3 separate regions of the Homo sapiens genome follow, and all the other regions are linked to region 1. Evidence: fine-mapped expression QTL. A gene starts in region 1. Each other region holds a variant in brackets. All regions are shown on one strand. Distances are between the middles of the regions.

Region 1 (8,182 bases):
CCTTGGTACTCTGTTGCATTAAAATCTGGTTTACCTTGCACTCTGAATGTACCCTTGAATGCACATATGATTTTATTACATCACAAATGGTCATTTGGAAAATATGGGTTCACTGAATTATACAGGTCTACCAAATATTAAAAAACATTCTTTTTTTAAGCACACATTATACAGCATTAAAACTATATGCATTAATATTACCACCAATGTCAGCAGAAACATCTTTTAAGTATTGGGAAAAACCGTCAAGCTCATGATGGAAAAGCAAGCTTTCTAAAATTCTATATTTTGCTTGAAAGCTCCAATTTTTCACTGGCCAGGAATAGTCAGTTGTTTACCTTGGAGTGACAGACTTGCTTTATTCTCATTTAAGTCTCCTAAATACTCAAATATGAATATCCACAGTTCATCACTTGTTCTTTCAGATAAAAATGGAGCTCCATGAGAACACCAGTTTAGCTCACAAATCAACATACAAGTGCTCCTCAAAACCACCATTCTACTCCCCAGTATACAGCTTCACAAGTACTTTCCGTGGTCACAGTACATTAAATAAACAAAGTGTCAAGATTTAATAAAATTAACCTCCTTTTACTGTTTCATCAAAAGCTTTTTAAACTATGAGTGTGCAGTCTTCAAGAAATAAAATGACAGCCGGGCGCCGTGGCTCATGCCTGTAATCCCAGCACTTTGGGAGGCCGAGGTGGGGGGGGATCACGAGGTCAGGAAATCGAGACCATCCTGGCCAACATGGTGAAACCTCGTCTCTACTAAAAATACAAAAATTAGCTGAGCGTGGTGGCGTACACCTGTAGTCCCAGATACTTGGAAGGCTGAGGCAGGAGAATCGCTTGAACCCGGGAGGTGGAGGTTGCAGTGAGCCGAGATCGCTCCACTGCATTCCAGCCCGGCGACAGAGCAAGACTCCGTCAAGAACGGAAGGAAGCAAGGAAGGAAGGAATCAAGCAAGGAAGGAAGGAAGGAAATGACTATATACAATACCGGTTCTCTGCCTTGATTGTTCCTATGATGGATACAGCATTTTCCACCACTGCTTTTGCACCGTTAAGTACAAATGTTGAAAGACAAAACATCTCAATAACATGAAAATAGTTTGAACATTATGTACCCTCTGAAAGATCTCAGTGGTCCCCCTCCCCAAGCATCCACAGATCCCGCTCTGGGAAGCACAGACCATCCACCAGCAGGTACCAGTTCTGCTTGTTATGGCGATGTAAAACTACTACAATTCCCTCTTTTTTGTGCAGCCCCCGAAAACATTTTTGCTATTGTCTCGCCTAAACCTTGCAGTAACTCTTTTTGGTAACTTTGACAACATTCTATGCATGTGGCATAAATGCTACTGATACTGGTTACTCTCCTTCACACCTTTTTATCATATGTGTGATACTCAGAACTGAGCTGATGCCAAAAATATCTGACCAACACAGAGTAGGGCAGAAATACATCTAGTTTCCATAAGGGCATCACACTTTTCGTTAATGCCGTGGTTCTCAACCAGATTTTGCACCCCAGGGCACATCTGGTAATATCTGGAGACATTTTTGATTGTCATTACTGGGGAAATGGAGGGGTGGAGCTCCCGGAATCCAGTAGGTGGAAGCTAAGGCTGCTGTTAAACTACAATACACAGGACAGGCACCTGCAAGGAATGAATCTGGCATAAATGTCAATAATGACTAGGTGAGAAACTGTTTAATGGATCCAAAGACTATCAAAACTTTCAGAAGCTTCACCACCATGACTCTTAAATCAGACTATAATCTTTCCAAAAGTATGTTTGTAGCTACATATGAAATTTAGACAAAATATGGACACTTGATCAAAATGTTCTGTAATATCCTAAATTTCGATAATTTTGATTTAAATTCATTCCGACAACTCACCTAGGGTCCATGCCCCAATGCCACTCACCCATCCAAATTTAACATTAGGACAGGTATACCAAAAATGAAAGCCAAACACAATATAGCCGGGAAATCACAATCCAACACATCAAAAAAACAACATTTATGACAGTGTGACAGCAGTACATGAAAAACAAAGCAACTTAATGAGGAAGAAGCCCTATTTTTCTTTAACTAGGCATTCTTTGGTCTCTCTATTGTTTACTACAGTAATTATCGTATACTTACTTTTTGAGTCTCGCTCTGTCACCCAGGCTGGAACGCAGTGGCATGATCAAGGCTCACTGCAGCCTCAGCCTCCTGGGCTCAAGCAGTCCTCCCACCTCAACCTCCCAAGTAGCTGGGATTACAGGCATGAGCCACCACGCCCAGCTAACTTGTGTTTTTTGTTGAGATGAAGTTTCGCCATGTTGCCCAGGCTGATCTCAAACTCCTGGCCTCAAGCGATTTACCTGCCTGGGCCTCCCAAAGTGCTGGGATTACAGGCGTGAACCACCGCGCCTGGCCCCGTCTTCCATTTTACACACTTGAACTAACTCGCGAAGAATTTGAAATACCTAAGGTCTTTCACAGAAATGTATACCTTCCCTCTTCAAAGAATGTTGGGGGAAAGTAGGTATAAAAGTACTTTTAATTCCTAGAAATAAGACACAAATTACTTAATGTTATTTCTTCATTGAAGCCTTTTAAGGTTTACATCTATCATTTTTAATGCTGGTATGATTATCAGAAAAAGAAGTCCCTTTTCAAAGACAGCAAAATGTTAACTTAATAACGCAGTCATCACGACATCACTGCAAACATTTATCTCCTATTGAACTGAGAAACACCACAACAATCTTGCTTAGACTCAGTTCTCCTAGGGTCTCTTATTCTATGAAAGGGAAAAATCAATAAACAGAAACCATGCAGATTCCAAGATTTTAGACCTGTATAGTTAGTTAAGTCTAACAAACGTTTTCATCACAGAAGTAATGTGATAGACTTCTTAATAACCTAAGGGGGTGGGTGGGAGCCATGGAAAATCCTTTTAAAATACATAAATTGCGATAGAAGTCATTAAGGTCTGTGCCAAAGTTAGAGTCTCACCTGTAAAGAAACACATTCACACACATATATAATTGTAAAACTACAATCGGTGATTATGTGCTAAAGAAATTATCCTTACTTACAAAAAAAAAATAGACCTGAGTTACTACATTCGATGTCTAGAAACCACAAAAATCTTTATCCTGAATTTAACCAAAACTTTGAGTGTCAATTACATGTTGCGTTTTGAGGCTACTAAGATGAAGAAAACTCGGTCCCTGGTCTCAAAGAGGCACTCTTACGCTTCAATATTCAAAAATGGAAGAAATGCAGTCTCACTATTTAGGCCTCTACAATGCTGTATATTTGCAGGAAAAAAAAAATCCGTAATCTACTGGCAATGAGCTGCCAAATTATATCTCATTATCAGAAAGGGGGAGGGGAGAAAAAAACTTTTTAAAAACCCACCAAGAAAAGAAAAAGGCGCAGTGGCATTAGAAAGCATAAAGAGACTAGCTTCAAGCCTTACAACCAGGAAAAAAAAAGTATCACCAGAGATAGAGAAAGAAGGAAACAGAATGAAACCTGGTTACCCCATCAAAACAAAACAGGGAAAGCAATACATAAGTCGTTTTGGAGGAGGGCACCCTGTGAAGTGCCCCCTTCTCCGACCGCCTGTGAATGCTAGGGAGGCGGAGGTGGAGGCAGGCGGACTCAACGCTCAAAGCTGGGCTTTTAACTCGTGCTCCTACATTCAGACAAGGTCAGTGGAAAGGGGCTAACTCCGGCGCACAAGACAGGCATCTGGAAATGGGAGGAAGAGAGTGAGCAAACTGAGACAGACCAGGAACAGAAAAGCAACATCGAATGGGCCCGAGGGGCGCCGAGAGCGAGCCCGAACCCCAAGTGCTGATCCCGCGTGCAGCAGGGTCGTGGTTCCCCACCACCAGGCAATGTTTTGTTTTCGGGTTGTTTTGATTTTCTTTGTGGACGGGGCGGAGAAGCTGGAGTGGCCGGGCGAGTTAGAGGTTCCGCCAGCAATTCCGGAAGGGGAAGGCCCCCGGCCCGACGGCAGCTGACCCAGCCAGGAAGGGTCGGGGGACGCGGGAACCCAGCACACGGGGGGAAGTGCGGCGGCGAGCGAGCGAGGAAACAGGAAGGTCCCCAGTCCTGCCTGCCTCCTACCAGCGGGGAGGGTCGGGCTCGCGTGCCACCCTCTCCGCCTACCTCTTCCCCTTCCCGGACGCCCCCCAAGGCCCAGCCGGCGAGCGAAAGAAAACAGAATACAAATTACTTACAACGGCATCGTCTCCGGCGCCGGCACCGCCCAGTCACTTCCCCCCCGCAACCGCCGCCGCTGCCGCCCTGGGCATGATCCACTGAGGCGGGAGGGAGGGGGGGGCCTGCCTCAGCCCTGGGTCCAACCCCTCTCCCGCACCGCTCCCGCCGCTTTAAGCGCTTCTCCTCCTTCCCCTTCGTCCTAACATGGCGCCCGAGCGCTACCACAGCAACGTTCTAGAACTGCTGACGCCACCACGCACGCCGTGCGTGCGCCTGCGCACCAGCGCCGTCCGCCGCGAAGCCTCACGGGAAGCGGAGTTCCTAAGGCCGCCTGCGGCCCGGCAATTACCCCCTGGGTCCTCTCACACTTAGCAGTGGGTGTCAGATGGTGGAAGGGAACGCTCAGGGAGGCCCCGGGCGGTGAGTTGTCCCTCGGGCGGGGACGCCCTCGTGGGCAGTGCGGCGTGGACGGCGCAAGGAAGAACCCGGAGAGATCCCAAGCCACGAGGCACCGCTTCCGGCGCATTGTGAGGTCCCACCTTTCCCGCCGCCTGAGGTCGCGGCGGCTGCTCTTTCCCGGAGCAGCGTCCCTGGAGGCGCTGCCAGGGGGTGAGGCACCCACGCGTGCACCGTATGTACCCCCCAGCGCGGCGCTTAGAACGACTCGCATGAGTCGCTGCCTTGGGTTGGAACCGGTTACTCCGCCGCTTCGTACTGGACTGCAAAGTAACAAGTACTTCGCCGGGCAGCGGTGCCGACCCCGTGTGCTACGGCGAGAGGTGCTTAGCCTAGAGCCGACGAAAACATGTCCCCAGGACTCCCTTTCCCTCCCAGACTGCGTCCCACCAGATGGAGCTTTCCGTCTGTTTTAACCACCAGTGTATTCCTGATGCCTGACCCAGGCGCTGAAATATTTGTTGAACGAATAAATGTGTAGGTTAGGACTGACGACAGTCCGCGAATTCTGGAACACGGGCTGATTTTACTTTTGAACAAATGATGCACTGGAACTTCCTGACAGAGCTGACCTTTTATAGGAACATCAATGGCAGTCACCGCTGGCATTTTAGCAAAGGTTGTCTTGGTCATAATTTCCCCTTGACTGTGTTTCCAGCCCTTAATCTATATCGGGTGGGACCTGGAAGTCTACCTTCTCGCCACCCCTCGGCAAAAGTTTGAGAAAGTGTTTGAGGCAGAGCCTCCTCTCTCATATGCCCTCCATCTGCGAATTAGAACGAATTATAAGTTCTACGGTGTCACATAGGGGGTTAGCGGAGAGGAAGAGGGAAAGAATCAAATACAGGACGCTGCCTTAACCAAAGTTCTAAACTCTAAATGTAATAATGTGCATTTGTGAGTCCTCAGGAAGTTTCACAAAGGCTTTCCCTTTTTTCACAGAATGTCTAGTAGGACTGGTGACTCCGAATGGGAAAAACACAGGACCTAGACCTGCCCTGTCCATTAGTGTAGCCCCTTGGCCACTTAGGGCCACTGAGCACTTGAAATGAGGCTAGTTCGTTTAGGAGGCACTGGAAGTGCAAAATACGCACGGGTGTCAGTTCGACGAATGTGAAATACCTCACTGATCACTTTTTATATTGATTGCACGTTGAAATATTTTGGATATATTGCAGTAAAGAAAATGTAAGCCGGGCACGGTGTCTCACACCTGTGATCCAGCACTTTAGGAGGCTGAGGTGGGAGGATCGCTTGGGCAGGAGTTAGAGACCAGCCTGGGCAATATAGGGAAACCCCCGTCTATACAAAAAGTTAAAAAAAAAAAAAAAAAAAGAAAAAAGAAAAAAAAATTAGCTGGGCATGGTAGTTCCTGCCTGTGGTCCCAGTTACTCCGGAGACTGAGGTAGGAGGATCCCTGGAGTGGGAGGTGGAGGCTGCCGTGAGTCGTCATCTCACTACTGCACTCCAGCCTGCGTTGACAGAACGAGATCCTGTCTCAAAAAAAAAAAAAAGAAAATATACTATTAAAATTAATTTTACCTGTTTTTTTAAATGTGACCACTAGAAAATTTTAAGTTATATATGTGGCCTTCATTTCCATTAAATAGTGCTGATCTGCAAACAGACTTATATTTGATTGTCATTTCTTCCATTTAGTCTCTTTTCCTCTTGTCATCAAGGTGGCTTTGGCTGGAGACCCAGTAGCATAGTTGTCCCTAAAAGACTGAAAATCTGAGATCCAGATAATTCAATAATGTATTAAGGCTATGGACTTCAAAGCAGCTTGTAAAGATATGCCCTGGGGCCTGGCACAGTGGCTCACTCACACCTGTAATCCCAGCACTTTGGGAGGCAGAGGATTCCTTGAGCTCGGGAGTTCTAGGCCACCCTGGGCAACGTGGCAAGTCGTTGTCTCTACTAAAAAAAAAAATCAAAAAAATTAGCTGGCCTTGGTGGCACACACCTGTAGTCCCAGCTACTTGGGAGGCTGAGGTTGGGAGGATCACCTGAGGCAAGGAAGTTGAGACTGCAGTGAGCCCTGATCATGCCATTGCACTCTAGCTTGGCAACAGAGCAAGACATTGTTCAAAAAAAAAAAAAAAAAATGCACTAACGATGTACTTTATGAATAAAAGAATGGGGACTTTTTCAGCTTATGTTGTCCTCTGCCAGGCATCTCAGAAGGCAGTGAAGAGAGGGACGCTAAACATCCATGCTTTTGGTCTATAATTGCTTCAAACTATTTTTGTTTCAGCCTTCCATAGAATGAGGCAGCTAGATAGCACAGCTGATGAATATTTAGTACCTAGAATGTGCTAGATATCACGCTACTTGCCTAAGGCATTTAAAAGGAACAATATTGAGGATTGAGGATGGAGTCAAGGTAGACTTCATGTAAGAGGTCACTTCAGACACGTCCTGATATGTTAGGGTTTGGTAAGTGGACAGAAGGAGTAGAAGGGCATCTCAGGTAAAGAGAACAATTTTTAAAAATAAAATGAGGCCGGGCGCAGTGGCTCACGCCTGTAATCCCAACACTTTGGGAGGCTGAGGTTGGAAGATCACTTGAGGTCAGGAGTTGGAGATCAGCCTGGCAAACATGTTGAAACCCCATCTCTACTAAAAATACAAAAATTAGTCGGGCATAGTGGTGGGCGCCTGTAATCCCAGCTACTCAAAAGCTGAGGCAGGAGAATCGCTTGAACCCAGGAGGCACATGTTGCAGTGGACCAAGATTGTGCCATTGCACTCCAGCCCGGGCAACAAGACCAAAACTCTGCCTCAGAAATAAATAAATAAATAAATAAAAATTAAAACGTGCAAATAATTTATTTGGAGAAAGGGAAACTTTTGAAGTGACTAAACCACAAAATATTTAGTGAGGAGTGGTGAAAATAAAGCTGCAAAGTTAAGTGAGAGGCAGAAGATAAGGGGCATAGTGGTGCACACCTGTGTCCTCTATTCTGAAGGCTGCGGTGGGAGAATCACCTGAGCCCAGGAAGTCAAGGCTGTAGTGAGCCAAGATCATGCCACTGCGCTCCAGCCTGGGTGACAGAATGAGACCATGTCTCAAAAATAAAGGAAGTAGGGGGAGATGGGAGATCATATAATGACTCCATAAACAGACAAAGGAATTATAGATGGTGATAAGCGGCATTAATAAACCAGGCATTAGAGTTGTGGTGGAGGCCAACTTCAGATAGAGAAGGCTTTTCAGAGGAACTGACCTTTGAGCTGAGACCTGAAGTTAATTCTGAGCGATTTTGAATTTTTGTTTTTGTGAATGGAGGAGCCATTGAAAGTTTTAAAACAGGAGTTAGGTTACATTTATATTTTTGGAAAGATGACTGAAAGTGTAAGGAATGAATTTGAACTAGGAGAGGTTTTGAAGCTGGAAGATGGGTGAGGCGGCTCTTGCAATCCTTCAGATGAGAAATGAAGTTTGAAATAAGGAAGAGAAAGCCGGGCGCGGTGGCTCAAGCCTG
Region 2 (8,182 bases), 78 kb before region 1:
TTGCCTGTGACTCCTGAACCTCTAAGTCCTTAGCAATGTCTAGAGGGCAAGAGTGCCACCATTCGAGGTACAAGGAACAGAGCATGAACACCCCATGTTGATTTGGGTCTCTCCTCCTCTGCAGCTTCCTCAATAGAGCACAAAGCTCTTGGCCTCTTCTACCCAGGGGTCCCCACCCTCCCTCAGTCCTCACAGGCCCCCCAGGCTGGCCACACTGACTGCATGGACGTGGCTGCACTCAGCCTCCCTGCGCCCCTCCTTCCTGAGGGGTTGGCCGAGGTTAAATGCTGATCCCACAAATGTCCGGGTTTTGAGCATTCCTTCTAATTACAGGTGTTCAGAGAGCCATTTGCGTGCCTTGTGAAAATGGTGCTTTCTTGGGGCCAGGCTGTGGTCAGTTAGTATCGTCCTTGCTTTAGCTAAGGGTGGGCAATGTCCACACAGCCAGGGAGGCAAAGCATAAGAGCAGGGAGTGCTGCGCCCGCTCCGGGGCTCCCTCAGCCGGCCAAGCCGCTAAGCCAGGAAGATTCCTTTGCGGCTGCCCACAGGCCGGCCCAACCAAGCCCCCATTTCAGGGCTAACAGTGACACCTGCAGTTTAACCTGCCACATGTCACTCTGCGGGACAACTGCCCTGGGAGGGGGCTGAGGGACCTTGGGCCACCTGGCCACCAATGCCCTTGCCAGGGGTCCCCAGGGAGAGGCTGAGGAGACTGAGTTCTCTGGGCCTGGTATAGGAGCTAGAGAGAGGGCAGACCCACCTGCTGTTCTGGGAGGAGGCCACAAGGCAACAGTTTCTAGCCCCGAGACTCCAGAACCCAGCACCTGTGCCTGTGACTCTCCCCACTCAGCCACCAACCTAAGAAAGCCAAGGCCATGGGAACTTGCTGGGTGGGGAGGCAGCAGGGACCAGAGAACACCAGTCGCCACAGTGGCAGCATCCAAACAGGTTTTACTGAGAGCCAGCTCTGTGCTGCACTAGCTCACCTTCCCCCTGCTCCTCTCAGCAAGGCGCGACCACCTGGCCCAGTGCCCTCACTTTACAGCCCGGAAGACTGAGGACCACAGAAGGGAGGTGGCTTGGTCAAGGTCATCTAGGGAGATGGCACCTAAGTCTGGTCTGCAGCCTCAGCCTACCTGCAGGACAGTGCTCAGGACTGCCATGGCGACATGCTCAGGACTTGATCAGGCGACATGCCCTTCCTGGCGTGGCCACCATGGGACAATGCATGCACAGCTTTCCATAGACCATCTCCTCAACACCACCACCCGCCCTCCCCCAACACACACTCACATGCTTGCACACACACACGCACATAGGCACACACACCGAGAAAAGACAGCAGGTCCAAGATGAATTATCTGAATCCAGCCCCAGCTCCCAAAGCATGGCCCCAACAGCCGCGGCTCCATTTCCTCCCCTGCACTCGCTCACAGAAATCTGAGAGCCAGGACACAGGGAGTTGAGAATGAAAATGAACCGATGCAAAGATTTCTTTATAACTTTTCTCAATATTCTGCTGATTGCTAGCTCAGTAGCAGATGTGGTGTGCTTAATGATGCATAGAGAAGCAGCAGCCCCTGATCCCTAAATGAACTTCTTATCTCTAAATATATACAGGGAAAGCTATATAAACTCAATTTAGCCCCTCTGCTCTTCCAGCTACCCCGATCGAGGAGTGGAAGGAGAGAGTGGGTGCCTGGAAGACCTGGCAGGGGCAGATGGAGGGCAGGGAGAAGGTGGGGAGGCTGCAGTGGCATCCGGCCACTGTGCTCACCGCCCCCCAGTGACTGAGCTGGCCACACAGACAGGCAGCCCACCTTCCTATTTCCCAGGGTGAGGGGGTGGTTTGAGGGGCTTCCTCCTGAGAAAGCCTTCAGTGGCAGGAGCAGCAATAGCAACAAAAACCTTCACCAGCAAAACCTCTCTCTGTTTAGCCATTTCCATTAAGGTGCCGCATCTGTATGTAGCAAGATTCAGCAAGTTCTTACAACTCAGGTTCTCGGTAAAGGGGTTAAAACGCTTTGGCCCTGAGCCTTCCTCGCTTGGTGGCATCCACTGTGTGCAGGTGCGAGGCCAGAGTCCCAGGGAGGACCCAGGGTCCAGCAGGGACAGATGTGAGTTCCAAGTGCAGGTGTGTGCCAGAGGCAGACACACTGGGCTGCAGGAACACAGAGGGGAGCCCTAGATCCTCCTCTCTGCACCCCCCACCCCCAGGAACGCCCAAAGGGCAGAAGAAGCAGCAGGTGCGAAGGCTTGGCAGGCAGGAGAACACCAGGCCTGCTCAGGAGCTGTGGTAAGTCTGGACACGGGATGATGGGTGTAACAGAGGGCCCAGGGGCAGGGGAAGCAGGACCTCCGACACCGTGTGAGGAGCCTGACCTTCATCCTGCAGGAGGTGAAGGGGATGCTTGGCCTAGTTCTAGGTCGCTGCTGATACATAAAAGCTGCTGCTGCCATGCTGAGTGGGTGAGCAGGAGGGCGGGGCTCGGGTTCAACACTCAAGTCCCAGAGTTCCCAAGAGGCCAGCCCAGGGCCTGGCCAAGTCACTTCAAATAGCTGTTTAGCCCAGATGGCCTGTTAATCTTGAAGGAAACCCAAAGAAGCACAGAGACACAGTTGAAATGGGAGTAAGAGCACCCAATGCCCATCCACGGCCAAAGGAAAGCTTATGCATATGCAACATGGGCCCACTCCGAAGGCTTTTCCATTAGCCGCGTGGAGACACTGTGGCCAGGTTGGGGGAATCTATATTTCACCTTACGTTGCACACAGCTGGGCTCAGACTGGCACCAGTGTTAATATGCAAACGAGGCAGTATCTGTATTCACCAGGGCTCTGAGAAGCCAGGATCCTTCTCTTCCAGAGCAGCAAACAGAGAAAGGTGGGTGGGGCATGCCAGAGGGGGCGTGGCTGGTAGGCAAGGACTAGGCAGGAAAGAGGCCATTGGAATGGGAGGAGAGACCAAATTATGTCAAATCAGTTTGGGGGAGTGGAGAACATTCTCAAAGAGAAGACTTAGAACCCAAAGGGTTTTGGAGCCAGAAGTTCCTCCTCGGTCTAATGGTCTCATTTTATTGATGAAAAAACTGAGGCCTAGAGAGGAGAAATAATTTGCTGAGAGACAAACACCTAATGGTAGTTTTTTGTTCATATGCGAATACAGCTGTGTTTAAATTTAATTTTTGTTTATATAGGTAAAGAAAGATCAAGGAGATCCTCAGAAGGTCAGTCCTATCAAGACCATGTGAGTACCGCGTGGACAAAAAGAGAAGCCACGGTCCTTGCCTTTGACATGTAATAAGAACTCAAAAGAATGGGGCACTGCGCATTCAAGAAGGTCATGAAGTGAACGTGCTACCTGCCAGGTGTGGGCTAGGGAACTGGGTGCAGTTGGTATTATCTCAGAGGTCCCCGGGGCGGGTGGAAGAGCTCAGAGCCACATCCCACCCTGCGCTTTCCTTTCGGCTCTGCTCTGAGCCCCACTCCTGGCTCCTCTCTCCAAACCCCCTTCCTTCGGGTTTTCTGGGAGAAATGTGCAAAACCTCACCAGTCTGTAGCGATGGATACAGTTTCTCTAGCTGGACACAGCTCCAGTGGTTCTAAGTGTGCATCTCTTAAAACGTCCACTGAGGCCAAAAAGCTCTCCCGTGCCCATCCCCCCACAGCAATTAGCAAATCGTCGGCACAGCAGTTATCTATACTAGACACATGCAGCCTACAAGCTAGACACCTCTTAAGGGAACTAGTTTCCTCATCTGTGAAATACAGTTTACAAGGCCTGTTTTCTGTGAGGAGTAAAAACGATCAGGTATGTGATGACATTTAGTGTCATACCTGCTATACTTGAAGCTAGCTGAAGTTACAGGCCTCTAGGATAATCTGCTGTGAGTTGTGAAAACCGGCACATAAGTCGAGTGTTAACCACAAATGACACAGGAGACAGCCACGAAGACCTTTGCTGTGCACCTAGAGGACAGGGCGTGACCTTGGTGCATGGGCTGTGTGACATTTCTTCCCAGAGCCTAGAAGCCTTTTCTACTTACTGCTCGGTTCAGAGATTCAGGGCTGGGTTCCAGAGGGATGCAGGAACTGCAAGCCAGGCTTCCAGATAAACAAGCTTTCGCGTGTAGCACGGAGTGTCTGTCCTCCTTCCTGAGTCTTCCCTTCACCCTTTTTAATGCCAACTCCATTTGTGATGATCACAGGAATTACTCTAAAGTCAGCCTGTGCTCCTCGGAAGGACAAACTGTTAAAGCTGAATGTAAATTTGGCATTGCTCTCCCTTGAATGCTCTTGGCATCCGTTTAAAGAAAC[G/C]AGAGTTAGGGCAGTGATCGCATATTCATTTTTATAAAAACGACTTACAGACCAAGATTGGTTTCTTGAAATCCCACAAGTTACAGCTTAATTTCCTTCACCAGCACTGGTCCAGTCCTATGCTACACTGGCTTTGGCCACACTCACAAACTTGTTAAGCCTCAGTCACTTTATTCTGCAAAACCTGCCATAGCCAGAGAGGTGGTAGACTGGAAGACTCAGGGTAACCAGCCATGAGTCTTAATCCAGGAAAAGGGCTTTGACAGTGGCCCCTGAGATCTGAGAGGACTGTCCAGTTACTAGTGCATCCCAATTAGCTGGGCTCCCTATCATGGTTTATTCAGCAAATGACAGTCAGGACTGTCATGTCAGGCCAGGTGTGGTGTCTCACACCTATAACCCCAACACTGGGAGGCCAAGGCAGAAGGATCACTTGGTCCCAGAAGTTTGAGACCAGCTTGGGAAACAAAGAGAGACCCTGTCTCTACAAAAGAAAAAATTTAAAATTAGCTGGGCCTGTGGTGCCGTGCACCGTGGTTCCAGCTACTCTGGAGGCTGAGGTAGGAGGATCACTTGAGCCCGGGAGGTCAAGGCTGCAGTGAGCTGTGATTGCACCACTACACTCCAGCCTGGGTGCCAGAGCAAGACCTTGTCTCAAAAATAAAACAGAATTCTCATGTCAGAGCCCCTTTCCAGTAAAGTGGGAGAGAGCACAGGCAGACACAGCTCCTGCCTCGAGGGGCCCCCTTAGCGTTCAAGCTATGATACCCGAGAGTCCTCTCTTTGGGGTCTGTCTGCCTAAGAACATAGGGTTTGAATCTTGGCTCCACTGCTTCCCAGCTGGTGGCCTTGGACAAGTCACTGACTTTCTCTGAATTCTTAGGTTCCAGGTAACAAAAGCAGTCCTGCAGGGCTGTTTTGGGTACTAGATGAGAGGTGTGCATAGTACCAAACAGTGCGTAGCACACAGTCAGGTGCCCCTCTTCTCTGTCCCATCACCCTTAAACATTCCCATCATTGCAATTGGCACCATGGGTCGTTGGACAAGTATTTCTCTGTGCCTCGGTTTCAACATCTGGAAAATGGGAACTGTAATACGTGCTTCAAAGGATTGTTGGGAGGATTCAGTGAGATAGTCCACGTAAGGCATTTAGCACAATCTTTAGACCATGAAGTCTTAATACACATGAGCTCATATTCCACTGGTACACTGGGAGCTCCTCGGGAAGAACTTGGTCAAGTCCTTCATTCACTGAATTTCCACAGACACTGACAAGCAGCTATTACACATCATGCACTGTGGCTACAGACATGCATCAAGACACGGCCTCAGCTTTGCAAGAGCTGCTCCCAACTCGGGCAATACCACAATATGGTAAGTGCTAAGAGATTTAGCTACAGAGTGCTTTGGGAGTGGAGATCTAACCCAGCCTAAGGGATCAGAAGACTTCTCAGAGATGATGATATCTAAGGTATATCCTGTGGGATGAGTGAAACCCAGCTGAGTACAACAGGAGGTGAGCAGTGAGATGCTGGGGCAAGAACTTCCACGCACACAGAAGAGCACGTCGTGGCAAGTGGAAGAGGGGACAGGCTTCGGCTAACTCATTGACACACCCAGAACTCATGCCAGGCACTTGGGGCTCAGGAGGTGCTGCTGAATGAATAAACAAGCTTGCCGTACACGGTTCACATCCTCCCTTCCTACCTGCTGCTCCAGGTTCCAGGGAAGAGATGCCCGCTCCCTCTGGCGCCTAACCCAGAGCATAGCCAGGAAGAAGAGGGCAGCATGTGGAGCAGTGCGTCACTGGACATGCCAGGCCAGGCTGCCATGGGAAAGCACTCCAACTCCAGGAAGACTGCCACACCCCCAGGTGCCCAGACTCCCAGATTCTCAGTGAAAGGGACAGGCTGGGGCCCCAAGTACTGCTGCAAGTGGACTCAAGTGGCTTAAGTTCAGAAACCAAGGTGCTAGGCAAGTTGTCCACGGGTGGGGAAGAAGCACCCTCACCTCCTGTGCGGTGCTTCTTGACGACGCAGGGGCCAGGTGTGTGAGCCTCACCTCGGGCCACATTCCCATTACATCTTCCTAGCAAAGTTTCCAAAGCTTTGTCCTCATTTCTCCTCTTCCCACCCAGGCCCACCCCGTCTTGAAATTCCTCTCCTGACTGAGATGTTTGTTGTTCACTGTTGTACCCTCCCCTTCATCCTTCTTGAAGGCTGTTAATAGAACCATCAGACAGACAGGCAGCGTCAGGAGAACAGGCACCTCCCCAGATGCCTGTTGGGTTGTTCTCTCCCGTCTTCCACTTGGGCTACAAGTTGCCAAACACCTAGGAATAGGGGCCGTTTGGTCAAACTATAGCATCTACCAATGGTCAGTGCAAATGTCTCTCTTTGCCTCCACATACTGGGGGCACTGAAAGGAATCCCGGCCTTGATTTCTCTCCAGTGGGTGGTAGACACTGGAGGGCAGTCAACAGCATGCCAGGAACAGAATGAGGAGCAGCGCCTGGGCTGGAAGTTGGCTGTGGGCTGCAAGGTGGTGGTGGGGACTAATGGGGCAAGGGGTGACTGCATTTATCAATGAAAGTATGAAAGGCTTAATTAAATAATGACTCATAAATATTCAGCTCAGCCAAGCTGAGCCCCCACAATGATGGATGTCAGGGACTAAAAGGCTTTCAAGGGGAGGACTCTGCAGAGATGTGGGCCCCCACGCGTGTCAGAACGTAAAGGGCACACTGCCCACAGCCTCTGCTAGCTTGTGACATATCGTTCCCTCGCACCCGCCTTGCAAGCCAAATGCATTTTAAGGCAAGCGGTCTAGTTCCCTAATGAAGAGACTTCTCTATCAGGACCTTGGAATTTGTAGTACAGTAATCCCCTTTATCCATGGTTCTGCTTTCCGTGGTTTCAGTTACCTGCAGCCAACCACAGTCTGAAAATATTCAATGGAAAATGCCAGAAATAAACAACTTATAAGTAGTAAATTGTGCAGCCCTCTGGGTAGTGTGAAATCTGGCACCGTCCACTCCATCCTATTTGGGATGTAAACATTTCTTTTATCCAGCATGAAGCTGGATCTGGAAGGAAGGGAGGTGCGAGAGCAAGTATGCAACGGTACAAGTCTCCAATATGGGAATATGGGACCAGGTACAAGCACAAGTGACGGAAGCCCAGGGTCTTTGTGTGTGTGTGCGCTCTTTGTTCTCCTTTACTTAGCTTCTACCACCACTAAGAACCTGGACCACATCTTAATCATGTTGAGCTGCTCTGAGCCTCAAGATCTTTCTCAATAGGGCAGTAACATCTAACCTACTGCTCCCCACCCGCCCCACCCAGTCACACACTAGCTTTGCTGGCTGCTTTGTTCTCTGACCTTGACATGCTCTCCTGCCCCGTGCCCTGGTGCAAGCCCTTCACTCCACTTAGCATGCTGTCTCCTCTGCTCTGTTTCCTGATCACAGCCAAACTACCCATCAAATGGCACCTGCTCTCCCACATCCTCCCCAAGGCCACCAGGAAGCTGCATGCTCCCTCAGCACTTCTGGACCTCTTATTCTATCACTGTGATACATCTGGGCACCTACATCTCTCTCAACCCAACTAAGCTCTAAAACTCCAGCACCTTCCTGTTCCTCTGCAGTTGCCAAGCTCCTTCCTGCTTAAGAAACATGCTGCTCCCTCACTCGGCACCACCTTAGTCTTCAGGTCAAAGCTTGTCCAGTTTGAAAGGGTGCTCCTAACCTTCCAGAAGCACTCTTATTTCCGTTCAGAGCCCACTAGTAACTTACAGTTCATTTGTGTTGTCGGCATCTGTATCTCCTATGAACTATAAGCTTTCATAAGGACAGGGGCTATT
Region 3 (8,182 bases), 20 kb before region 1:
GGCGTGTGCCTGTAGTCCCAGCTACTCAGGTGGCTGAGGCCTGAAAATCAATTGAGCCCAGGAGGTGGAAGGTGCAGTAAGCCAAGACTGTGCCACTGCATCCAGCCTGTGCAACAGAGCAAGACCCAAAGACAGTACAGCCTCGGGATGCCTGAGTTGTACCTACTCTGCCACTAGAAGGTTGAGAAAAACTGTTCAAGCTTTATTGCCTCTTTTAGTCTCAGGCTCCTGTTTGTTATGTGAGAATAACAGTACTGGAAGAACTAAATAAGATAATGAAGATCTCAGTACTCAGTGAAAGAAAAGAAGCTCAATAAATGTTCTTTGCCGAGGTAACATTTTTATTGTGTATTTATTTGCATAGAGGAAATAACTACAAGTATAAACTATTAACTGATTATCATTGGCTATGAATACACATTTTTGGGGTTTGCTTTTGCTTAGCTATATTTTATAATTTGTCTATAAAGGTATTAGCGGGGGGCATCCATGAGTTTTCTTAAAAGCTAGAATTCATTTTTGTTCTATTTCCAGAGTGATATTCTTCTGGTGAGGGAAAATGATATATATGTAGATAGCAGCACTGTACAAAAGAGCTCTCCAACAGAAAAACTACTCTGTATCTGTACTTTCCAATGCAGTAACGACTAGCCATATGTGGCTACTGAACAGATAAAATGTGGCTACCTCTACTGAAACTCTGAGTTTTTAATTTATTTATTTACTTTTTCTTGAGACGGGGTCTTGTTCTGTCACCCAGGCTGAAGTGTAGCAATGCAATCACAGCTCACTGCAGCCTTGACCTCCCTGGGCTCAAGCAATCCACCTGCCTCGGCCTCCCAAAGTTCTAGGATTACAGATATGAGTCACCACACTAAGCTAATTTCATTTAATCTTAATAATACTTTTGGACAGTGGCGATATAGAAGTCAGCATTATTTTACATCTTTCTTACTGAAAAATTTAGACTCCTCAAAGCACTCTCTCTTCCATGCAAGCCTAAGCTATATGATACACAAGTAACTGAGACGGGTATGTCATAATTTTTAAGAACTAAAGGGTCCCTTTCTAAGAAAAATGAAATAATACTTACCTTTTGTATGCACTCCTAATCTGTAAGATCCAAATGTAAAAATTTTTCCTCCAACATTTTCAATTACAGATTGTGGAAGATTCTGTTGAAACAAAAAATGGTTATTTTGCCAGTGGAGCACAAGGGAAACTATTCAAATGATACTATACTGGGGTGAGGGAGTGGATCCAAGAAAGATTACAGTGTAAATTTATATAAAGGGTATTCAAAGTCTATAAAAGTTCTTAAAAAATACCAGCCCCTCAGATCAATCATATTTGAAATTCAAACCATTTTCAACTTTTAAAGAGGTTTATTCTTTATTGTTAGATTCTTGCCCTATTTCTAGAAACTACTATAAAGAAGACTGTGATTGAGAAGATCATGTAATCCCACAGGAGCACGTTAGAATCGGGGACTTTATTCATGACAAAGATGCTGTATATAAAATGAATCACCAATTTAGAGTATAATAAAAACATATTCTGATTGCTTTAAAGAAAAAGATTATATTCAACGATTTTTACCAAATATCCCACAACATATTAGAGTATTTTTTTTATCATATCAAAAGTGACTTGAAAGCCAATAGTAGCCACACACAGTGGCTCACGCCTATAATCCCAACACTTTGGGAGGGTGAGACGGGCCAATTGCTTGAGCCCAGATTGAGACCAGCTTCGGCAACATGTGAAACCCCGTCTCTACAAAAAATGTTTTAAAAATTAGCTGGGCATGGTGGCATGCACATATAGTCCCAGCTAATCAGGTGGCTAAGGTGGGAGGATTGCTTGAGTCCTACAGGTCAAGGCTACGTGAGCCATGATCACGCCACTGCACTCTAGCCTGGGCGACAGTCAGACCCTGTCTCAAAAAAAGAGAAGGGGAAGGGGAAGAGGGGAAGAAGGGAAGGGGAAGGGGAACGGGAAGGGGAAAGGGACAGCAGAGCAGAGAAGAAAAAGCCAATATTGGTAAATAATTGCTTAGTTTTTTAGATTTCCAAAAGGCTTTAGTGAAGTAATTTAGAAACAACTAAATTTTCTTTTCTTACTCAGAAAGAGTAGCATCATCAGGAAGAGGGAGAAAGCATTCAAAAACTGCCTTCCTGGCCCTGGCACTAGTGTAAAGTCCCAAGCTTTACGGTTTAGTATTCAATGGCCCTGCTCGTAAGAATGACAAGGTCTGTCCAAACAAAAACAATTTTATGAAGTGTTTAGTCAATATTTCCTTTTACCTAACTCCTCAGTATAATAAAATATCTATTCAGTACCAAAACATGTAAAAGACCACCCCCCTTCCTCTCAAAAAAAAGAAAAAGGACATAAAATGAAGTGTTATTTCATACTCCAAAAAAACCCTAAAGCCAAGTTCTAAACAGTCAGAGACTCCTGTTTTTTAAGAGCATATTTAACCATCACTATAGACACTAATAGACAAGTTATGTGTGTAATTTTTTTTTTTTTTTTTCTGAGACAGAGTCTCGCTCTGTCACCCAGGCTGCAGTGCAACGGGCGCAATCTCGGCTTACTGCAACCTCTGCCTCCTCGGTTCAAGCCATTATCCTGCCTCAGCCTCCTGAGTAGCTGGGATTACAGGCGCGCACTACCACGCCCAGCTAATTTTTGTATTTTTAGTAGAGACAGGGTTTCACCATGTTAGTCAGGCTTGTCTCGAACTCTTGACCTCGTGATAAGCCCACCTTGGCCTCCCAAAGTGTTGGATTACAGGCGTAAGCCACTGCGCCTGGCTGTAATGTTGTATTTCTTAAAAGTAAGCAAAGCCTTTGTCTTCCTATGTTTAGATATTTTAAAACCTCAATGGCAACGCTGACCTGGTTATTTAAAATTAGCCAGCAAGACGTGTGCACAAGTAGCCTACAAAGGAGGTGAAGGAGAAACTATCTTAAAACACTGGTCCACAGACTTCTCTATTAAGACATAACAATCTTTTGAAGAATACTCTCCAATGGTACTTTCTGCAAGGATGTAAATATTCTGTCACTGTTATCACTTTTGTTGAGCACCTGAAATGTTGCTAGTGTAGTCAAGAATCTGAATGTTTAATTTTAATTTTTATTTAAATACCTGGCTGGTGACTAGTGACTAGTATATTATAAACTACATTTTTAGATATTAGTATGTTTATACTTATTATCATCATTGTAACCCAGAAATTAAGATTTCTTAATTCAGGTCATGGAAAAACATTTTCACTTGCAAAATCTTTTTTTCATTTTTAAGTGAAGAGTATTAGATGTCAAACAAACCAAAAAAAAAAT[C/A]TTATTTTCTATCAGAAACTAAAATCAGTAAGAAACACATGGTACGTAAAGTCCATAATTTAGAATACTACATTTGCTGAAGTTTAATTTGTATTTTGAAATATACATATACACTGCATAAGTAAACAGTACTATAAATTTCATTAAAACCAAAAGACTACAACTTTTAAGTTGACACCCTGTCTCCCTGCTCTATGAAATTTTTCCTTTACCCTTGGTTCTCTTTTCAACCTTTCAGTTATATTATAGATTAAACACGGATTTTGTACTACCCTGGAAAAATTACCACTATTTATGTTATTTTTTTAAATGGGTCAAATGAACTCCACACACAACTCTACAAATACATTTTCTCTACCAGAAGAAGCCCAGCCATGTATTTATGAGTTGTATGTATGAGTATTCATAATGAAGTGTTAGAAACTCAAAGGGGCTGGGGCAGTGGCTCACCCCTGTAATCCTGGCACTTTGGGAAGCCAAGGCAAGCAGATATCTTAAGCCCAGGAGTTCGAGACTAGCCTAGGCAACATGGTGAAAAGCCATCGCTACAAAAAATTAGCCAGGCTTGGTGGTGCCCACCTATATAGTCCCAGCTACTCAGGAGGCTGGGGTGGGAGGATTGCCTGAGCCCGGGAGGTGGAGGATACAGTTAGCTAAGATCATGCCACTGCACTCCAGTCTGGGCAAGAGGGAGACCCTGTCTCAAAAAAAAAAAGAGGACAGAACAGTACCTCACGCCTGTAATCCCAGCACTTTGAAAGGCCGAGGTGGGCAGATCACTTGAGACCAAAAGTTTGAGACCAGCTGGTCAACGTGGCAAAAGCCCATCTCTACTAAAATACAAAATTAGCTGGGTATGGTGGCACACACCTGTAATCCCAGCTACTTGAGGGGCTGAGGCAGGAGAATCAGTTGGCCGCAGGAGGCACAGGTTGCAGCGAACCAAGATGGTGCCACTGTACTTCAGCCTGGGCAACTGAGCAAGACTGTCTCAAAAAAAAAAAAAAAAAAAAAAAAAGAAAGAAAGAAAGAGGCTAGATGCAGTGGCTCATGCCTATAATCCCAAGCACTTTGGGAGGCCAAGGAAGGTGGATCACTTGAGGTCAGGAGCTCAAGACCAGCGTGGCCAACATGGAGAAACCCCATCTCTACTAAAAATAAAAACAATAGTTGGGCATGGTGGCGCCCGCCTGCAATTCCAGCTACTCAGGAGGCTGAGGCATGAGAATCACTTGAACCCGGGAGGTGGTGGTTGCAGTGGCACCACTGCACTCTAGCCTGGGTGACAGAGTGAGACTCTGTCTCAATAAAGAAAGAAAAAAGGAAACCCAAAGAATGTTATTACAGAAAACTAAATAGGCCGGGCAGCGGCTCACGCCTGGAACACTAGCACTTTGGGAGGCCAAGATGAGAGGACTGCTTGAGGCTAGGAGTTTGAGATCAGTCTGGGCAACACAGCAAGACTCCACATATACCATTAGCCAGGTGTGAAGGGACATGCCTATAGTCCTAGCTACTTGGGAGGCTGAGGCCAGGAGGACTGCTTGAACTCAGGAATTTCAGGTTACAGTGCACTATAATGGTGTCACTACACTCCGCCTGAATGACAGAGCGAGACCCTGTCTCAAAAAAAATAAATAAAAAATAAATAAATAAATAAATATTCAGTTTGAATAATACCTGAAAATCTTTTTTAAAAACTAACTGTGGCAGAATTTCTTAAAAGGTAAGAAGAGTCTCAAATATGTTTAAAGCACCTTTTTAGAGAAACATCCATTATTTCTGTGAAGAGTGTAAGTACTTTACAATTACTGAGTTTCAGTTTTCAAATGTTCCAAACAAAGAGTACTATACTTATTTTTAAAAATCGCTTAACTCAGTTCAGTTTTTCCTGCTTCCAAATTAACTAGAAAAATAATGTAAAATCTGTTATCAATAGTCTAAAATTGACTCCACATTAAAGACTCCAAATCCACTCAAATAAGAACAGGTTATATAAGACACTTGCTGTGTTCAGTTGGCTATATATGAAATTATTTCATATACAAAAAAGTTGCCTTACCTTGCTTTCACTGATTTCTCGTATCCACTCTTTTACCAGGTTATTTAGTTTTCCCAAAATTAAAATCCTGTTGATAAAACAATTATCAATCAAGTATTCCAGATCATTACTGATTAAATTTCTTAAAGTTTTAAATAGGCGTTCTTCCTAAATTATGAGTTTTTAAGCAATCAGAAGCACAGTATATTGTAGTTAGTGCACGCTCGCTCGCTCTCTCTCTCGCTTTCTCTCTCTCTCTCTTTCTATATATATATACAGGCACTGTTACACTGAGTAAGGCATTCCTTTTTCTCCAGACAATTCAGTACTATAATAACCAAAAGCATAAAAAATCAAAATTAATTCTTCAGAAAAAAAAATAAATAACATCAAAATTAAGGGAAGAGAACTCTATGTAGAAAATAAAAGTTTTCAGCCAGGTACGGTGGCTCACGCCTGTAATCCCAACACTTTGGGAGACCAAGGCTCAGGAGTTCGAGACCAGCCTGCCCAACATGGTGAAACCCCACCTCTACTAAAAATACAAAAAATTAGCCGGGCGTGGTGGCGGGTACCTATAATCCCAGCTACTCGAGAGGCTGAGGCAGGAGAATCGCTTGAACCCAGGAGGCGGAGGCTGTGGTGAGCCAAGATCACACCATTGCACTCCAGCCTGGGTAACGAGCAAGACTCCGTCTCAAAAACAAAAAGTTTTCTCTCTTAAGTATCCCTCTTCTCCAAAACAGATATATAGATCTGGGCAAATAACCCTGGTCTTCTAAGTAAGTAGAGAATGCCTCAAAATTAGTTTATGTCAACATTAATAAAAGTTTCCGAGTTAAAAAAATATAGAATATCTATTTACCTGCGCTGCAGTTCCTCTTCCTCTTCAAAAACCCCAAAGGGTTTCAATGTCTCAATTAGTTTCTGTGTAAGTACGCAGTCAGTCTCCTTGGGGGCTGCTAAGCTGATAGGAGAAGTAATGCCATAGTGCTTCTGTGGCGGTTGTGTTTGTTGTGATCCCTGTGTTGTAACTGGACTATAAACAAAATTGGATACAATTACTGCCAAAAGAATTCTACAATTTGAAACAAATCAGTAAGACCAGAAAAACTAATTTAGTAACACACATTTCTAAACATGATTGGTTCCCTGCAATACCCCCAAAATTTTTGACAAAAAGTGACCAAAAGCAAGTGACCAAAGAGAAAATCCTGCCCCAAGGATTTTAACTGTCACTACTTAAACATCTAAGTTAGAATCCAGACCAAATACATTGCTAGAGAAAACACTAATTCAGAATATAGTAAACTTCTGAGAAATTTCACCTCTTGAAAAGAAGCCAAAATCTGTTTCTTAAACATTGATAAACACGCTACAGAAATGCTACTTTACCAATATAAGACATTCCCCAAATGAAACCTGGCATCTGGCTTACAATGAACGAAGTTCATAGATAATGAAGCAAATAGCAAAAACTTAAACAAAATTTGAAGGGAAAGAACTGAATATAGTTCTTTCCCTTAGGGTGAATATACCTTAAGCTTGTTAATGATCTTTTTAAGAGATTTACACTTCGATAATGATGCTAGTCTAAAAGGTTTATTTTACACACACACAGCTATTTTATCCATTTTAAGATAAGTTCCAAATTTGTAAAAAGGCATAGCATGCTTTAAATGCTTAGGAAATAAATCTGACTCAATCTTTTTTCATAAATATTTTTTCATTAAATTAAGAAGTCAACATAATAATTTTAAACTAACAGTTGAATAACATACAAAACCAAGTACACAATAAGGAAAGACCCAAAATCTGGATCGGTTATTTCTCCCAAATTCCATTCCTTAAGAAATTAAGTGTTTATAGGCCAGGTGTGGGCTCACCCCTGTAATCCCAGCACTTCAGGAGGCTGAAGTGGGAGAATGGCTTGAGCCCAGGAGTTGAGGCCAGCCTGGATAACATGCTGAAACCCTGTCTCTACCAAAAAAAAAAAAAGTGTATTTTACACACACACACAGCTACCTCTTATTTTTTGAGATGGAGTCTCGCTCTGTCACCCAGGCTGGAGTACAGTGGTACGATCTCAGCTCACTGCAACCTCTACCTTCCAGGTTCCACCGATTCTCCTGCCTCAGCCTCCCGAGTAGCTGGGACTACAGGTGCATGCCACCACACCCGGCTAATTTTTATATTTTTAGTAGAGACAGGGTTTCACCATGTTGGCCAGGCTGCTCTCGAACTCCTGAGCTCAAGTGATCCGCTCCCTTTGGCCTCCCAAAGTGCTGGGATTACAGGCATGGGCCACCATGCCCAACCACAGCTACTTTTTTTTACCAAGTTCTAAATACAATTTCTACTTTAAGTTAAAGTGTGATAATCTACATATGCAATAAAGGCCAGGCGCGGTGGCTCACGCTTGTAATCCCAGCACTTTGGGAGGCCGAGGTGGGCGGATCACGAGGTCAGGAGATCGAGACCACAGTGAAACCCCGTCTCTACTAAAAATACAAAAAATTAGCTGGGCGTAGTGGCGGGCGCCTGTAGTCCCAGCTACTCGGAGAGGCTGAGGCAGGAGAATGGCGTGAACCTGGGAGGCGGAGCTTGCAGTGAGCTGAGATCGCACCACTGCACTCCAGCCTGGGGGACAGAGCGAGACTCCGTCTCAAAAAAAAAAAAGCAAAAAGCAATAAAGTGCTAAATCTAAGAATGCTATGCAAGTAAGGCTTATGATACATTTACTGAACAAATCCACTGGGTTCTGGTCTATACTCCAACGGCTAGACTGTTC

Which allele goes with the higher level. Alleles are on the strand shown, and positions count from the first base shown. SD is a standard deviation of normalised expression in the study named. Not every link is listed here.
With allele G in place of C in region 2, the expression in aorta of the gene that starts at base 4,474 in region 1 is higher (small effect, 0.17 SD a copy in GTEx).

The links. PIP is the estimated chance that this variant, and not a neighbour inherited with it, causes the effect. A credible set is the group of variants that fine-mapping cannot tell apart.
Region 2: its variant is the best candidate, but not a certain one, in a credible set for the expression of PAPOLA in aorta (GTEx, PIP 0.77).
Region 3: its variant is the best candidate, but not a certain one, in a credible set for the expression of PAPOLA in whole blood (TOPMed, PIP 0.69).

Annotation. Positions count from the first base shown.
Region 1 is chr14:96,498,674-96,506,855 of GRCh38, reverse strand. It overlaps PAPOLA (poly(A) polymerase alpha), which reads right to left and starts at 4,474. Exons shown (of 22, transcript NM_032632.5): 1 at 4,256-4,474. The coding sequence starts at 4,263. PAPOLA-DT (PAPOLA divergent transcript) reads left to right here and starts at 4,530. Exons shown (of 1, transcript NR_122121.1): 1 at 4,530-5,208. RefSeq lists enhancers at 1,825-2,324, 2,325-2,826, 3,982-4,577, 4,401-4,660, 4,578-5,172 and 1 more and silencers at 4,161-4,280, 4,719-5,062.
Region 2 is chr14:96,576,767-96,584,948 of GRCh38, reverse strand. No RefSeq gene overlaps it. Among named protein-coding and RNA genes, the nearest start is that of PAPOLA, 78 kb to the right of the region's middle. The variant G/C (reference allele first, on the strand shown) is at 4,318.
Region 3 is chr14:96,518,303-96,526,484 of GRCh38, reverse strand. It overlaps PAPOLA (poly(A) polymerase alpha), which reads right to left. Exons shown (of 22, transcript NM_032632.5): 2 at 6,257-6,430; 3 at 5,413-5,479; 4 at 1,094-1,175. Among named protein-coding and RNA genes, the nearest start is that of PAPOLA, 20 kb to the right of the region's middle. The variant C/A (reference allele first, on the strand shown) is at 3,351.